Homo sapiens: one gene and its partner. The protein of the gene in region 2 interacts with the protein of the main gene of each other region in a pairwise test. Each region holds a gene or a part of one and is shown on either strand. Other genes may lie near its edges.

Region 1 (3,669 bases), on a different chromosome or scaffold from region 2:
TTGAAGACTATAACACCAATTATGTTTCTGAGGATGCATTTGACATGCCAACTCTCATTCACAAAAATACATTGTTAGATTTTTGTTGAACTGCCCCACACAGCACACTAATATGGGGTGTAACACACATACTTGTAACTCCAAGCTGCTTTCAGGAGCTACTCAACTCAATGAGATTGCCTTTGCAGTTAGGGAAGCAACTACTGAACTTATGTATGAAAGAAAAGAACTGTATTCCCTGCATAACAAGAGATTATTTTGGAGACAGTTGATAAAAACCATACATCCTTTTTACTGTTAAGTCATAAAGAGGTGTCAAAATTAAAAGCAAAAATTACAGGGTAAGACTTAGGAAAACTACTAGGGGTGTCATGGGAAGTGAAAATGGGACTAGGCGCAGGGCAATATGAATTAATGAATGTGGGAAGGACAAGGATGGGGAGAACAGTAAGCATGTGCTGAAGATACTAAGGGAGAGGATCTGGTGAAAAATTTGTTGTTAGACAAGCTCCTAGGTAAAGAAACAATGGGATAAGATTTCTCAACCCCACTATGTGCTTAAGAGTCATCCTGGCCATTGGTGCTGTCTCTGTTATCCTCTCCTTCCTCAGCATCTTTTTCATTATTCTTGATCAAATGAAGCTGGTTGTCCCCCTGATCTTCATTATCATCATCATCCAGTGGGTCCCCCTCCTCAGCAGAGTCTTCTGCACCCCCCTCAGACTCCATCTTTACATGAGTCTCATCTTTCTTCATGGAGCTACTGCTCTGCTCCTCTTCTGACTTAGCATTTTTCACCTCTACCTCTTGTTTGCTCTGTTCCTTTTCAATTTTTTCCAGGTTTTCCAGGAGAGAATCCACTTTCTGTTTTATCTGGGTCAACTCCTGCTTAATGGCCTGAAGGTCATCTCCTTTCAGCTTTCCAGACTTGGAAGATCCCCGCTTTCCACTCTTAGAATTGAAGCCACTTTTGCCCCTTCGTGAGGTGTTTCCTGATATGCGCTGGCGTTTCGAGGGCACTACAGCCAGAGCAATGGGAGGAGGAGGAGGTACACGTGCTGGGAAACTGTACATCCCATCATAATAATCCCGTTGAAAGCCATAGTCCAAGTCAAAAGAGGAGCCGTACATCTCCGCTGCGGATCGTTTCACACCTGCGTTTCCTCGGTTCACTTTTGGCTCTGCAGCCAGGTTAATAACTGCAACCTGGCTAGCAATCATTCTGCCATCCTCTCCTGCTACAGCAGCCCGGGCATTTTTCTCCTTATCATATTGAACGAAGGCAAAGCCCTTATGAACAGAGCAGCCCGCAATTTTGCCATACTTGGAAAAGATCGCCTCCACATCAGATTTCTTGACAACAAGAGTGTTGAGATTCCCAATGAACACACGGGAGTTCACGGAGTGAGGATCCATCTTGTTGGTAACGTTGCTGGCCATTGTGTTGGATGATAAGGTTTCTCAAAAAGCCAAAAACAGGAGGCGGGAGGGAGAAGAGATTCGATTCTAAGTCTCCTACTGCCGGGTTCTACGGGGAGAAACTGACTGCGGCTCGAGGCCAGAAATGCAGCCAAAACAGCTCAGTCTTCGTCTCTTCACAAAATGGCTGCCAACAAGAATTCTGAAATGATGTAAAGAAAAGCACAACAACATTTTTGAAATCACGACAAAATTGCATTTAGAAAAAAAAATCAAAGCTTCAAAGTGTTCATATGAAAAAAAGAAAAAAAGACATGATATAGTTCTATGCCATCGTAGGCTGCACTGTCACCGTTCTAGACCGGCTGACTGTAGGTCACATGGGAGTGTCCTTACAGAAATTAGTGACTTACCAGATCTGGTTGTAGTTTAGAAGGTGCTCAGACCTCAGGAAGAGCCAAGCAGGAACTCCAGGCTTGAAGACTTTGAGTTTGTCCTGTGGGTCTTTAGAAGCTTTTATTGACCTTTCTAATCACAACTCCCACCCACGCCCCTCCACGTATCCGCTGCTAGCTTCCAATCAAAAAGCGATATCTGATTGCATTTCTGAAGCTCCACTCAGTTAATCCTGATTGGGTTTTTGACTGTCCGAAGACTAATGGATTGAACGAGATATCCATTCATATCACATATGCATAATCATTTTATGAATTAAGAAATTGACAGAGTTAGGGATAGAGTGGAAATCAAGAATTCATTCACTCAAGGCCAGGTGAGGTGGCTCACACTTGTAATCCCAGCACTTTGGGAGGCCAAGGTAGGTGGATCACCTGAGGTCAGGAGTTCAAGACCAGCCTGGCCCACATGGTGAAACCCTGTCTCTACAAAAATAGAAAAGTTAGCCAGGCACGATGGTGGCTGCCTGTAGTCCAGTTACTCATGCGGCTGAGGTGGGAGAATCCCTTGAACCCTGGAGGCTGAGTTTGCAGTGAGCCAAGATTACACCATTGCCCTCCTGACTGGGCGACAGAGGGAGATTTTGTCAAAAAAAATGCATTCATTCATGAAATCCACAAACACTGATGGAATTTTACTGCTATTTCGCCTTCAAGTCCTGATGTGAGGCAGGGAAGGGGTTGATCTGTTCCAGACATTAGACAGAAAAATAAAACCTGAAAGTAGTGTTGTGGGGAGATCTTTGGCCACATCAAAATTATAAAATTTATAAAAATATTTCTAGTTAAAATAGCTGTATAAACACAGAGGAGTCGTCCCTACAAAATAAGAATAAAGATCTCCATGTATGGAATGGTCTTGTGGGTTTTATATCACCTAAGGTAGCAGTTTCTTCACTCGTGCTGGTGGAAGAGAGGTGCCACTGAGGGCTTGAGTGGTCTCAGGGCTTAGGTTAAGTCTTCTCTGGAAGAAATTGAAATGATACCTGTAAACTTTATAAGTTTAATCAGTGAAGAAGGGAGGGGGAGAAACAAAAATAAACCAAGCTTGCAGCGCATTCAGCATTCACCATGAGGTCAGCTTGCTCTCTGACCTTCTTCCTCATGGTTGCTGGCAGCTTACTGTCCCCAAATCAAGTAGACCTTAGCTTACAGTTCCCCTTAACTACCCTGCAGACAACAATTTAAGCCTTGTAAAACATTAACTTTCTCATTTGAGATATTCTTTCAGGTTCTGCATGTCAGTGAAACTACTGATGCCAGCTGATCTGAAGGGCTCTGCAAGGCACCAACTCACCAAAGAATGCAGTTTTGACATCCTGATGACTTCATCCCTCTTACCTCTACACCAACTTTCCAGCCCCTTGCTATCCAGGATCCACTGGAAACCCTCAGTACTACTTGGGGAGATGAATTTGAGGATATCCTCCTAGCTTCTCATTTAGCCACCCTGTGATCATTAAACTGTCTGCTGCAAACACTGCTGTCTCAGAATATTGGTCAGCTACTGTGCAGCAGGCATAGGAACCTGATGGTCCTGTAATAAAATCATGTCAAAATTACAAAGAGAAGTGAGGGTAGAGGATGGGCATGGTTGAGCTGGGTGTTTTAATGGGATCCTGGGAGTTAACCAAGACTTGGTAAACATGTTGGGGGTTACTGAGGGGGTGGAGGTGGAATCTATCCAACATTTCACTGATGCCCCTTTACTTTTGATTCTTAGGACCAAGGTTGAGTCTTTCAAAACAATTTGTATAATCCTCCTTATTTTTCCTTTCAAAACCTTTGTCTTCCT
Region 2 (2,760 bases):
CAGCCTCCCAAAGTGCTGGGATTACAGGTGTGGGCCACCATGCCCGGCCTGCTCCCCCCTTTCCTAAAGGGAAAAACAGACCTCTCAGAAATCCGCAACAGCACCCCCATGGCCCCCCAGGCCCCTGCTGGCAAAGGGGAACAAGCCGCCCACCAGGCTCCTGCAGTGCTGGCTGGGCCCGGGGCATACTCCCACCTGCACAACACCTGGGGCTGCCAGGGACAGGCTGGGATCTGTTCCTGTTGAGCGATGGGCGACTGGGCAGAGCCACTCCATATCCAGCATCCTGAGACCCTAGACCTGAAGCCAGGAGGTATCTGGGGCCTGTCTCTCCCTGCAGAAAGGATGGGTGTAAACTCGCCTGGCTGGGAGGTGACCGTACGAGACACCAGAGCATGGATGCAGAATAGACGGGACTGTGGGGGAAGACGCAGTAATGCCTGACCAGTGCCCTGGCAGATGCTCTGTAACCAGGAGCTGTGATGGCCTCCACCCAGCCCACCCCCAGCAACCACCTCCAGGATCCGCACGAAGCAGACGTTGGGCAAAGTGAACCCAGCCCCAGTTTATTAGAAAAGGTGTGAACAGAGTTGCACCGACAGGAGTAGCCCCAGCCCTCTGCCCACCCTCACCCACACCCATGCCACTCGCCCCCAAAGGGCTGTAGTGCCTCTCAGGGCGCAGCCTCCAGTGGCCTGGACAGCAGGGTCCCGGAGTGCCGGCTGCTCCCGCCCCAGCTCCCTGATAGATTTATTGCACTTGAGAAAAAGAAAGCTCTGATCCTCTGCTCCCATCCCCCCACCCTGCCCGGCCTGCGCTGTCTGGGGCTGTTCTGTGCATCTCAACCACCACCAGCACGCACCGCCTCTCCGGCACCAGGCTGCCTGCCCGGCCCTGTGCCCGGGGCCACAGGGGACCATCCCACCACCACCCAGGACGCCTGCCCTCCGCAGGGCAAGCCTGGCCCCTCCAGAACAGGCGCCTGATGTCCTTGGAGACCTCCTCCTCCTCCTGCTCCCCCTCCTCCCATTCACCCCCAGAGTCTTCCAGTGCTGGGCTCATAAATAGAAGTGCTTGAGTCACGCGCGGAGGGCCACTCCCTGTAGCTCCTGCACCCCTTGTAGTGTTGCTGTGGGGGGAGGGGGGCCCCAGAATGGCCCCCACCCCTGGCATCCTGGGCCTCAGGAAGGCTGGGGGGAAGGTGAGCAGATTCTCATGGCTCTGGCCTCAGCTCATCGCAGACCGACCGGAAAAAGGGAACTTGGGGAGGAGAGATTGGGGGAGAGACTGTCAGAGCCAGAGGCTCTCTCAGCTCCTCCCGAGTGCTGTGGGCCCCGGGCCTGGCCTCACCTAAAGTGTCACAGTGTCTCCTGCCCGGATTCCTGACTGGCTTCCAGAAGCAGCTCCTCGAGCTCCTTCTCGTTCTTGGAGCAGCTCAGTTCTGTGTGGGAGGACGGGCCAGCACCCCCGTCAGGCGGGTGGGGCAAATACAACCTGTCCCCAGCCCGGCCCCAGCCAGACCCTCAGGGCCTGCAGAGTGCCCAGAGACCGCTGAGATGGTCAGGCTCAAGGCAGCACACCTTACATGCCCCCCCACCCCAGGAAGAGCTCCCAGGACCCAAGGGAAGCAGGGTGGAGATGAGAACTAAGCCCCACTTTGCTGGCCCCTGCGAGAACCATTTTAAAGAGGGGGAAACTGAGGTCCACAACAGGCAGGGGCTTGCCTGGGGTCACATACAGCACCCAGGGCCCCTCAACACCTGCCCTAGGGCCCCTCTCACCGTGCTCCAGGCCGCAGCTGCCCCCCTTGACCTCAGGCCCCGGGGGCGGCTCAGGGGGCAGTGCCAGGGCGAACTCGGGCTTCAGGCCGTTGGGCAGTGGTGGCCCTGACCGAGGCGGCTCCGGTGGTGGCTGAGGCTCAGAGGACCCTGTGTCCCGGGTGTCAATGGCCCCGGCTGGTGGTAGGGAAGGTGAGGCGGGTGGGGAGGGAGGGGGTGGGGGAGAGGGAGGGGTGGGGGACGCAGGGGGCTCTGCCCTCTCGGGCGGGCTCTCCACCCGGGTCACCACAAACACCTTGTGGCCCCGGCCCGGGCTGGACACGGAAATCCGCTGCTCGGTGGGTGTGGAGGGGCTGCCTGGGGGACTCCTGTCCCCAGGGCCCAGGGAGTCCGTGGGGGGCACCAGGGCAGGACAGGGGGTCTCGTCCCTCTCCCCTTCCTCTTCCTCCTCTTCCTCCCCATCCGAGTCCGAGTCTGAGTCTGAGTCCGGGCTGGGTGCGGGGCTGGGGGCCCCGTTCTGCACCCCAGCGGCGGGCTCGTCGTCGGGCTGGGGCTCGGTGGCGGTGGTCTCAGGCATGGAGGCCGACAGCTGTGGCGGCTGCTCCTTCTCCTCCCTCTCCCGCGCCAGCACCAAGTTGCGCTTGCAGCCGTTCTGGATCTCGGCCAGCAGCGCCTTCTGCGTCTCGATGAAGCTCTTCACCTGTGGCGGGAGCGCCTGGCTAGGGCTCTCAGGCCGGCCCCACCACCCGGCCTTCCGCCCGCCCCAGGGCTGCAGGACCGTCCCCTGCTCACCGCCTCTTTCTTGGGTTCACGGTCGAGGTCCAGGCGCAGCAGTGAGTGGTTCACCTTGAGGGCCAACGACAGTGCCATGAGCCCGCCTGTCTTGATCTCGTTCTCCCGAAGGTCCAGTCTCAGGAGGCGGGGGCTCTCAGCGATGAACTCCGCCACCGCCACCGCGCCTGGGGGGGCACCGCAGGGGCTG

The links. The genes of interacting proteins can lie anywhere in the genome.
Region 1: the proteins of PPP1R37 (region 2) and HNRNPCL2 interact in binary tests that used the Homo sapiens proteins (3 or more experiments, as listed by UniProt).

Annotation. Positions count from the first base shown.
Region 1 is NC_000001.11:13,114,961-13,118,629, forward strand, and holds HNRNPCL2 (heterogeneous nuclear ribonucleoprotein C-like 2), read right to left. Parts: upstream 1,895-3,669; 5' UTR 1,833-1,894; intron 1,622-1,832; 5' UTR 1,441-1,621; coding exon 559-1,440; 3' UTR 528-558; downstream 1-527.
Region 2 is NC_000019.10:45,145,071-45,147,830, reverse strand, and holds the end of PPP1R37 (protein phosphatase 1 regulatory subunit 37), read right to left. Parts: intron 2,738-2,760; coding exon 2,571-2,737; intron 2,479-2,570; coding exon 1,782-2,478; intron 1,442-1,781; coding exon 1,359-1,441; 3' UTR 1,351-1,358; intron 1,261-1,350; 3' UTR 546-1,260; downstream 1-545. UniProt on the Homo sapiens protein: Inhibits phosphatase activity of protein phosphatase 1 (PP1) complexes.